3 linked regions of the Homo sapiens genome follow. The protein of the gene in region 1 interacts with the protein of each later gene in a pairwise test. Each region holds a gene or a part of one and is shown in the gene's direction. Other genes may lie near its edges.

Region 1 (3,651 bases):
TTCATTCATTCATTCATTCATTCATTCATTCATTCATTCTACAGTTAGTGAGAAAAGTCTTTGCCTGTAGGGTGCAGAGGTACCAATCAGACCTTTCATCTATTCCAGAGCATCGTTTGGCGAGGTAAACATCTGATTTCTAAAGCTTTTAGTCCATGCAGTGAGCTACCACACTTCTTACATGAACTTTTGCCTAGGCTGGCAAAGACCTCAATCTTGAATTGTTTTCTACCCAACTCTGAGCAAAGAGAGCCACAAAATCTATTGGAGTGGGGGAGTCTGCAGCTTGGCTGGCCGCCCACGGTGGCAGGAGTGTTTCTGATGCATGCTGGCCCTCTCCTCTCAGCGTTGTTAGGAGGGAGTGCTCAGGAAGTAGCTGGCCCAGTGCTGCTGTTGCCGCCATCATGATAATGATGGCTCTGGCAATTACAGGGCCCGTGTGTTGCCTAAGCTTTGTAGCGATGCCCCCAGTTCTCCAAAGAGCACTGAGATCTCCAATAAGTAATTGTTAAATCCAGTCATATGGCGTGTTACAGCAAAAACACAAATCTGAGTTCCAGTGAGGGCTTTGCCACTAACTAGCGGGGCGACCCTAGAAGGACAAAGCAACCTCTCTGGACCTTGGTTTTCTCATCCGTCATGCTGTGACTCATGTAATCCTTACAACTGCCCCTCAGGTGGGGACTGGCACATCTGGAAACAGAGACACAGAGAGGTGAGATCACCCAGCCCATGCAACTGTGAGTGGCACAGTGCCAGGCTCTGTGCAGGCTGCCATACCCCAGACAGACCTGGCAAGGAGTGTCCTGCGGGGGACACCCATCATCCGAATCAGCCCTGCGCGCACCATGGGTGCTCCGTTAGTATAGGTCACTGTGATCCTTGTCTCTGAGTGTTCATCAGCCAATACCATGATGTCCCTTGGTTGACTCCCTCATGAGGGAAGAAAACCTCCCCTCCCTTATACTTTTCCTTTTTAAGCTTCCCCATCATTCTGCAAACTGGGGTGGGTGTGTGTGGCGACTTTTGTTCCTGGGTCCTATATGCCATCGCTCGACTAAGCAGCCCCTGAGCTGCAGAGAAATTGTTGGTGCCTGTGCCTCCGAGCCTCACCGCAACCCTTGCGTTGTCCCAGGTGACTGGGCCAGGGCAGGCAGAGCTCACTCAGGGCATGTGTAGGTGGGCAGGAGTGGAGGTGCCTACGCTGGTAATAAGCAGTCATCACTTTTCCTGAAGGCAAGAAATATGAGCCCATGCATAGTTTTAAAACCACTTGCCCTAGGAATTTTGCTTTCAGAAATTTTTAAGCAGACCTACAAATTATGTGGTAAAATGTCCGACATGGAGAGAACCATAATAAGTCAGTGGCACTCAGAATATCTAGTTGGGAACGATTATGAAATAAAAAACGAACAGAGGGACATTTGTCTCCATTTGGACTGCTGTTAAAACCATTTTTTTAAACAAAATTTGAAGTTATTCTCCCTACACCCACCTCCCAAAATGCAGCTGTGGTGTTCCGAGAACATTTTTGTCTTTTTGTATAAAAGAGAGCAGTCTTAGAGTAAAACAAGACATCTGATTTCAGAACCCAAAGAATAAAGAATAAACTAAATGAACGATGGAAAAAGCATAAACCGACAATTTCCATTCTCCAAAAAAAAAAAGCATTATTTTCCTAACAGCAGGTGTTGCCAGTAGCACAAATGGAATATTAATCTTATCTCCTGTGCTGTTCTTCCTCACCCGAAGAAGACTTCCCCAGAAATAAAGAGGCAGAGAGTTGGGTTTTTGCCCTTCTTACTTGCAGGGCTGCAAAACTGGGTGTCCAGTATGTTTCCCAACCCAGGACCCACATGTCCATGTGTCTGAGACCAAGTGCAGCCTCCTTGCCGGGTTGCTGGGAGCAAAAGCGGCTCATCCCTGGCCCAGCCAAACCCCAAACCCGCAGGTTTCGTGGGGAGCAGCCAGCTGGCCCCTGAATGAAGGTATCGACGAAACCCAGCGCCAGCAAATACAGAAGAGAGAGGAGCTGGTTTTGGCTGGCCCAGCCAACGACCGCTGACAAATATTTGTGAATGGCCAGAGCAGGGAAGCCTAGGTCTCCATTGCTGGGGAACGAGGCCTAACTCCAAGTCTGTTCCAGTGCCCTTAGCAGCCCTCTTGGCTCCTTCTCAGGCAAAGAATTTGGACCTCATGCAGTTATCACCACCGAGGTCTCAGTGGCCATTCAGCCCTTTGTCTCCATTACTACAGGTCACTGCGGTCCTTGTCCCTGAGTGTTCATCAGCCAAGGAGGCTGTGTCTAAAGGCGAATGGGAGACAGATGGGAGGTGGCTGCAAGGTGCTGTGATTAGTTGACAGGCTTAGCTCACTCCTGGAGCCCCTGGCAGGCCCTCTGCTGTAGGAGTGCACCTCACGGAGCCTCGGTTGTCTTATCTGTCGAATGGAAAGAAAGGTTCTTGGCCTGCCTGCACACAGAGGCCAGTCCCAGCAATCACTCACCCTGAGAACTAAGCAAGGCCTTGTGCAGGAAGAAGGAAAAGGGAGGACAGAGGGACAGTCTTAGTGCCTCTTCCTCCAGTGGCATCTGGGTTCTTCCCTGCCCTCCCAGGGCTCACCCAGCTGATTCCATCTGCCATTTAGCTCCATATCAAGACCTCCTTATTTTGAACCTGTTAGTCTTTCCTACCCAATTAGGAGGGAACACTTGAGGTGGACTCCCTGGCTTCCCTCCCACCTACGGATGGCTTTCCACATGTGCAAAGGAGCCGCCGCCCAGCAAGGGTGAGCCTGAGAACGCCCACTAATGCCAAGTGGCCTGGGGCATTCTTGGCCATTGCTATATTGTCAGGGCTGGCTGGCTCCAAGCTCTTTCGAACCAGAAAGACATGGAATTCCAGGTCCCTCCAGATTTCCAGGAATGAACAGCAGAAGCCCTGCAGGAGCCAGCTGATTTCTTTCTGGAGCCCCTGACCACTAGCCATATAGCAATTACTTCCTTCCCCCTCCAGGTAGATAGAAGTTGTTTTCTTTTCTGGGGGTGGAGGAGTGCACTGGGTAGAGAGAGGGAAATCCCTGTATGGCAAGTGGGAAACCAGGCAGTTTCAAGACGGATGTTGGGAAGGGCTTGGTCAACCATCCTTTGGGGACATTTCTTGGGCCATAGCTGCAGGCGCCACAAAAATTCTAAATAAGGATGACGAAAGTTGTGAGAATCAATTATTATCTGCCAGGGAATTTCCAAGGTTCCTCTCTGGGCTTAAAAATAACTCACATTGAAAGAACAAAGAGAATGGAAGGAGCAATTAGTTGAAAGTAACTGAGAAGTTAAAGGAGGGAGAATTCACAAAAAGTCACAGGCACGAGGCACCCTGGAGAGTGGTCTGTGGGCCACAGTTTCTTCTGGGCTTTCCAATGGGGGTTGCCTTACACTCTGCAGAATGAGGGCTGCAGCCCTCCCCGCTGACTCAGGCATTTGGGGCTGGGCTGGGCTGGGTAGTCGGAAGGCCAGTTGGTGGTAGAATCACTGGGAGGAACCTGACTCAAGGGCCCCACTTTTCTCATGGGGCCCAACTCTTCTCCAGGTGCTGGTGCTGATAGCTCCTACCTGCCATGGGGAGTGAAACTGAATATTTCAGCAATGCCAGT
Region 2 (3,651 bases), on another chromosome or scaffold:
GTAAATGGCTGGAGAGTGCAGAGATGAGCTTTGCACATGTCCCATCCCCAGGACTTGTATGTCCTGGAACATGATCAGTACTCACCAAAGCTTGTTCCAAGACACGTTTGCCCCTCCAAGTGTCAGTGGGTCATTCAGGAGAGCCCCTGGCTAAAACACATCTATGTGCACCTGCCTTCTAATCTGAGGCCTGGCGGCCCCTGGGCTTCTTTTGCCCTTCTGCCGTCTCATTTTCTGCATGGTTTTCTTCTGCTTGGAGAAATTTTTGGTGGCTTCTTCCCTGCCCTCCATCTATCCCACTCCCATCTAGTTTTTTCTTATTCAGTTACAGAAGTGAGCCTGGCCAACAAAACAGAAAAAAGACTTCCCTCTTGGGAAACCTGGCTGTCCCAGGAGCTTTTGAAGGTTCAGCCCTGTGCTGGCAGTTCCTGCCTTGAGTCTGTTCGTCTGCCCCAGGTCTCTTGGGTTCACTTCCCAGACCGGGCCTGGAAGTATGCTAGAGTGCTCACTCTTGTACATTTGTACACTCTGCTGGCTCTTCCTGCTGACATGGGAAGACCCTTTCCCCAGTGTTGAGTCAGAGCTTTCAGAGCCCTTCCCAACTTCCTGCCTGGCCTGGCTTTTATACATGCAGCCCAGCCTGTTGCATTGGAAAACACAAAGGACATGGTCTACCTCACTCCAGACCTGAGAGAGGAAAGGAGGCCTCCAGACCCATGTCTAGCCTGCCATTTGGATATGACCAGGACAGCATGTAGAGAAATTTAAAAGCAGTAGGGTGCTGTAAACTTCTAATTTTAGTGTCAAACGTATGAGATAATCAGTGTTGTGATTTCAGATGAAGGTGCCATAGTAAGACAACATCATCTTGGTGGACAGATCTGATCCTAAAAAAACACTTTATTTTCTTTTTTTTGAGATGGAGTCTTGCTTTGTCACCCAGGCTGGAGTGCAGTGGTGCGATCTCAGCTCACTGCAAGCTCCACCTCCCGGGTTCACGCCATTCTCCTGCCTCAGCCTCCCAAGTAGCTGGGACTACAGGCGCCCGCCACCACGCCCGGCTAATTTTTTGTATTTTTAGTAGAGATGGGGTTTCACTGTGTTAGCCAGGATGGTCTCAATCTCCTGACCTCGTGATCCGCCCGCCTCAGCCCCCCAAAGTGCTGGGATTACAGGCGTGACCACCGCGCCTGGCCTAAAAAAACACTTTAAACTCTGTCTATTTTATTCACTCTTGTATCCCAAGTGCCAAGACACATGGTAGACACACACATATTTTTGTGGGAAAACAATTTGGGCCTTAGTTTAGTAAGTGCAAATGTGGAATGCAATTTTGGGCCCTCTGTCTGTAAGTATTAGTGATAGCAAATGAGATTTATAGAAAACTGATATGATGGGAAAACATAAAAATATTTGGAGTAGGCTGGGCGCAGTGGCTCACGCCTGTAATCCCAGCACTTTGGGAGGCTGAGGTGGGCGGATCACGAGGTCAGGAGATCGAGACCATCCTGGCTAACATGGTGAAACCCCGCCTCTACTAAACAAAATGCAAAAAATTAGCCAGGCGTGGTGGCAGGCACCTGTAGTCCCAGGTACTCGGGAGGCTGAGGCAGGAGAATGGTGTGAACCGAGGAGGCAGAACTTGCAGTGAACCGAGATCGCGCCACTGCACTACAGCCTGGGCGACAAAGTGAGACTCCATCTCAAAAAAAAAAAAAAAAAAGGCCAGGCGCGGTGGCTCACGCCTGCAATCCCAGCACTTTGGGAGGCCAAGGCAGGTGGATCACGAGGTCAGGAGATCAAGACCATCCTGGCTAACACGGTGAAACCCCGTCTCTACTAAAAAAAAAAAAAAAAAAAAAAAAGCCAGGCGTGGTGGCGGCGCCTGTAGTCGCAGCTACTCAGGAGGCTGAGGCAGGAGAATGGCGTGAACCTGGGAGGTGGAGCTTGCAGTGAGCTGAGATCGCGCTACTGCACTCCAGCGTGGGCAACAGAGTGAGACTCCATCTCAAAAAAAAAAAAAAAAGAAAAAGAAAAAAAATATTTGGAGTAAAACCAGTTGCCCACTTCTCCATTACCCTTCCCTGTCCATGCACACATACTAATTTCTCCTGAATTTTCATGGTCTATTTGAATTAATGAAATTTTAACTTAAGCTTGTTTTTTTTTTTTTTTTTTTTTTCCCCAAGAGACAGGGTCTTGTTCTGTTGCCCAGGCTGGAGTGCAGTGGTGCCATCACAGCTCACCTGAAGCCTCAGCCTCCTGGGCTCAAGCAATCTTCCTGCTTCAGCCTTCCTAGTAGCTGGGGACTACAGGCATGTGCCACCATGCCTAGCTAATTTTTAATTTTTCTTTTTTTTTTTTTTTTTTTTTTTGAGATGGAGTCTTGCTCTGCCACCCAGGCTGGAGTGCAGTGGCGTGATCTCAGCTCACTGCAGCCTCTGCCTCCCGGGTTCAAGCGATTCTCCTGCCTCAGCCTCCCGAGTAGCTGGGACTACAGGCATGTGCCACCACACCTGGCTAATTTTTGTATTTTTAGTAGAGATGGGGTTTCACCACATTGACCAGGCTGGTCTCGAACTCCTGACCTCAGGTGATCCACCCGCCTCCGCCTCCCAAAGTGCTGGGATTACAGGCGTGAGCCACTGCGCCCGGCCTCATTTTTGTATTTTTTGTAGAGATGGGGTCTCATGTTGCCCAGCTTGGGTCTTGAACTCCTGGCCTCAAGCAGTCTTCCCACCTTGGCCTCCCAAAGTGCTAGGATTATAGGCATGAGCCACTGCGACCAGCCTTTTTTTTTTTTTTTTTTTTTTTTTAGCGTTAAAGGCAAACTATTTGGCCGGGCATGGTGGCTCACGGGTTGGATCACTTGAGGTCAGGAGTTCGAGACCAACCTGGCTGGCATGGCAAAACTCTGCCTCTACTAAAAATTCAAAAATTAGCCTGGTGTGTTGGCGCATGCCTGTAATCCCAGCTACTCAGGGGACTGAGGCAGGAGAGTCGCTTGAACCCAGGAGGTGGAGGTTTCAGTGAGCTGAGATTGCACCACTACACTCCAGCCTGGGCAAGAGAGTGAGACGCCATTTCAAAAAAAAAATAATAATAAAATAAATAAATAAAGCAAATGATTTACTCTTTTTTCTTCCACATGCTGCATCATTATTTCCAATAAATAACTTCAGTTAGGGTCTCCAAAGACTTTGAGAACTCAGTGAACACATGAACGAGTGAACAAACGAATGAATGAATGAAAGTTTTGTGTTTGTCACAGATGTGAGAGACTGAGTTATAGCTTATAGCTTCCAAAATGTGACTTCTTTGTTATCAGTTGAGGGAATCTGCATAATTCCTTAGAAGTGCTCTTGGTTGTTAATCCCTCCAGGGTAAAAGAAGGAGACTGTTTCATGTAAGATTTTATTCAAGTTATTTTCAAAAGAAAACAAAGGACATAGATTTTCCCATTCTTGAAGGAAATGTTTGGAGTTCCTGTTGGATACACAAGCAAGCTGGTTAATTAGGTTAATTAATTGGAGAGAGGGGATGGGAAATGCCCTTGGGAGCTCTGTATCCTGCCGATGTATCACACACGCACACCCTGCGCACGCACACTGGCTTTCCACTCACTCCTTAGAGGCATCAGAGTCTTGCCTG
Region 3 (3,651 bases), on another chromosome or scaffold:
GGTCTCTCACCTAAGTTGTGGTTCCTCACTGATGACTTTTCTGGCCCCACCACAGATGATACCACCTTTATAAGCACAAATGTTGTCTGTGGATTTAATGTAAATGTGAAAAACAAAATTATTTCAAAAACTTTACCTGTGTTTCTTCCTGCAGCTAGAAAGTTTGGGTCAGAGTGAACTGGCTTCAAGACTTACCTTGAATTGTCAAAATTCTTATGTGGAACCTCATAAAATTCGGGACATACCTGTAACTATTATGGATGTAAGCTTCCTTTTAAGTAAAATAGCTGCTTTACTTTTTAAAATGTGTATGTCAAGATCTCCTATAAAACTATTTGATAACTTTCAATGTACCTCTTCAAATGCTGCCTTGGCTTTTGTTTTTACCCTCCAGCTTTCTCAATTCCAAAATAATCTGTTTATTGCTTATCTTGGATTTCTTTCTGGCAGGAATAACACCATTGAAATCAAAATAGGCCGAGCACAGTGGCTTATGCCTGTAATCCCAGCGCTTTGGGAGGCTGAGGCAGGAGGATTGCTTGAGTCCAAGAGTTCAGGACCAGCCTGGGCAACATAGTGAGACCCTGTCTGTATTTATTAAAAAAAAATAAAAATAAAAATGAATCAAAATAAATTTAAACAAGGGAGTCTACCCATTTGATGTATTTTTGCTGTTCTCATCAATAGATATTGCACCATATATTGCACATATATGGGCAGCAAAGAGAAGGTGCTTCACAAGGGTAACAAGGGTAGAGAATCAAGAATTCCATAGTTTAATTACCACAAAAGCTTGCTTATTTTTTTATTGTGGTAAAATGTACATTTAAAATATGCCATTTTAACCATTTTTAAGTGCATAGTTCAGTGGCATTAAGTATATTCACAGTTCGGCAACCATCACCATTTTCACAACATTTTCATCATTCCAAGAAGAAATTGCATACCCATTAAACAATAACTCCTGTTCCCTTTCTTCCCCCGGCCTCTGATAATCAACGGTTTTATTTTCTGTCTATAAAAATTTACCTATTCTAGAACCTCATATAAGTAGAATCATACAACATTTATCCTTTTGTGTGGCCATTTCACTTAGCATAATGTTTCACAAGACTTATCTTGAAATGTTATACATGTGTCAGAATGTCATTTCTTTCTTTTTTTTTTTTTTTTTTTGGAAACAGGGTCTCACTCTGTTCCCCAGGCTGGAGTGCAGTGGTGCAATCTCAGCTCACTGCAACCTCTGCCTCCCGGGCCCAAACAATCCTCCCTCCTCAGCCTCCTTAGTAGCTTGGACCACAGGCTCACACCACTACGTTCGGCTAATTTTTTGTAGAGATGGGGTTTCACCATGTTGCCCATGCTGGACTCAAACTCTGGGACTCAAGCTGTCTGCCTGCCTGGGCCTCCCAAAGTGCTATGACAGGCATGAGCCACCACGCCCAGCCTATTTCTTTTTAAAGCTGAATAATATCTACCAATAAAACCAATGTTGGTTTATACCACATTTTGTTTATCCATTCATCCGTCAGTGGTCACTTGGGTTGTGTTCAGCTTTTGGCAATTGTGAATAGTGCTTCTATGAACATTGGTGTAAAAGTATATGTTTGGGCAGGGCACAGTGGCTCATTCCTGCAATCCCAGCACTTTGGGAGGCTGACTCAAGAGGATTGCTTGAGCCCAGGAATTCGAGACCAGTCTGGGCAATACAGGAGACCCTGTCTCTACTACTAATAAAGAAAATTAGGCCGGGCGCGGTGGCTCACCCCTGTAATCCCAGAACTTTGGGAGGCCAAGGCGGGTGGATCATGAGGTCAAGAGATCGAGACCATCCTGGCCAACGTGGTGAAACCCGTCTCTACTGAAAATACAAAAATTAGCCGGGCATGGTGGCACACACCTGTAGTCCCAGCTATTCGGGAGGCTGAGGCAGGAGAATTGCTTGAATCTGGGCGGTGGAGGTTGCAGTGAGCTGAGATCGCACCACTGCATTCCAGCCTGCCAATAGAGTGAGACTTCGTCTCAAAAAAAAGAAAAAAAAAAAAAGGAAAATTAGCTGGACATGGTGCCACATCCCTGTGATCCCAGCTACTTGGGAGGTTGAGGTGGGAGGATCACCTGAGCCTGGGGTGAGCCATGATCATGCCACTGCGTTCCAGCCTGGGCAACAGAGTGAGAACCTGTCAAAAAATATATGTATATTTGTTTGAGTTCCTGCTTTTAATTTTTTTTTATTTATTTTTAAATTATTTTTTAAAAATAATTTTTTGTTTTTTATTTTTATGGGTACATAGTAGATGTATCCTACTTTTAATTCTTTTGGACATATCGTTTGAAGTAGAATCACACTTTTTGAAGTACCACCATACTGTCTTCCACAGTGGCTATACCATTTCATGTTCCCACCAACAATGCACAAAGATTCCAGTTTCTCTATATCCTGGACCCTTATTTCTGGTTTTTTGGTTGATACTTATCCTAATGGATATGAATTGGTATCTCACTATGGTTTCAATTTACTTAAAAAAAAATCATATGATTATTTTGCCTTATAAATGGATTTGTTCCTAAATTCAAATAATATGGTTTTTTGTTTTTGTTTTTGTTTTTGTTTTTTTGAGACAAAGTCTCACTCAGTTGCCTAGGCTGGAGTGCAGTGGCGCGATCTTGGCTCACTGCAAGCTCCGCCTCCTGGGTTGACGCCATTCTCCTGCCTCAGCCTCCCAAGTAGCTGGGACTACAGGCACCCACCACCACGCCCAGCTAATTTTTTGTATTTTTAGTAGAGGCAGGGTTTCACCATGTTAGCCAGGATGGTCTCGATCTCCTGACCTCATGATCTGCCCGCCTCAGCCTCCCAAAGTGCTGGGATTACAGGTGTGAGCCACCGCACCTGGCCATAATATGGTATTTTTAATAATTGGTTTTTGTTGGGAAATTATTCATTATAAGCGTGTAAACAACTTCTTATCATCCTCTGCCATAATCGCTGCATTCTGACATTTGCCATAACATAGAACAAGCTTTTCAATGGTCCTCACAGGACATTTGCTCTGCCTGCCCTTCTTTCAAAGCTGTGCTCACTGCCTGGGTTCATGGTCACTGAAAACAGCCTGTAAGTTTTAGTTGGAGATGCACTTAAACATACAGATTTGGTATGGTATATTTAGTATACAATTTTTTTTGCTTATTTTACTTTTTGAAAAATTTTGTTGCATGTAAAAACGTAAATGTGTATGGGTATTGAAGGATGTCTAGAATCATATGCTGCAAACTGGTTTCCCCAAGAAAGAATAGCTTGTACTCTACATTTTTTTGGAATTTTTTTCACTGAGCCTAAATGACTTAGTTTATTGCTTTAAATTAATGATAAAAGTAAAAAGTTCTTTTGGGGCTTCGTGATCTTTTTGAAACTTATTGACATTTGCAATGATTGTTCTCTATTAATATTCTGTTAATCTACTTAGCTATATTTGAGGAAAAAGGAAATTCATGGTAGAATTTCCCCCGACCCCAGCCGGGCTTGGTGGCTCACGCCTGTAATCCCAGCACTTTGGGAGGCCGAGGTGGGCAGATCACCTGAGGTCAGGAGTTTGAGACCAGCCTGGCCAACATGGTGAAACCCCATCTCTACTAAAAATGCAAAAATTA

What was found.
Region 2: the proteins of CTIF (region 1) and ATPAF2 interact in binary tests that used the Homo sapiens proteins (3 or more experiments, as listed by UniProt).
Region 3: the proteins of CTIF (region 1) and SPG21 interact in binary tests that used the Homo sapiens proteins (3 or more experiments, as listed by UniProt).

The regions. Positions count from the first base shown.
Region 1 is NC_000018.10:48,751,946-48,755,596, forward strand, and holds part of CTIF (CBP80/20-dependent translation initiation factor), read left to right. Parts: intron 1-3,651. UniProt on the Homo sapiens protein: Specifically required for the pioneer round of mRNA translation mediated by the cap-binding complex (CBC), that takes place during or right after mRNA export via the nuclear pore complex (NPC).
Region 2 is NC_000017.11:18,029,045-18,032,695, reverse strand, and holds part of ATPAF2 (ATP synthase mitochondrial F1 complex assembly factor 2), read left to right. Parts: intron 1-3,651. UniProt on the Homo sapiens protein: Plays a role in the assembly of the F1 component of the mitochondrial ATP synthase (ATPase).
Region 3 is NC_000015.10:64,965,866-64,969,516, reverse strand, and holds part of SPG21 (maspardin), read left to right. Parts: intron 1-154; coding exon 155-262; intron 263-3,651. UniProt on the Homo sapiens protein: May play a role as a negative regulatory factor in CD4-dependent T-cell activation.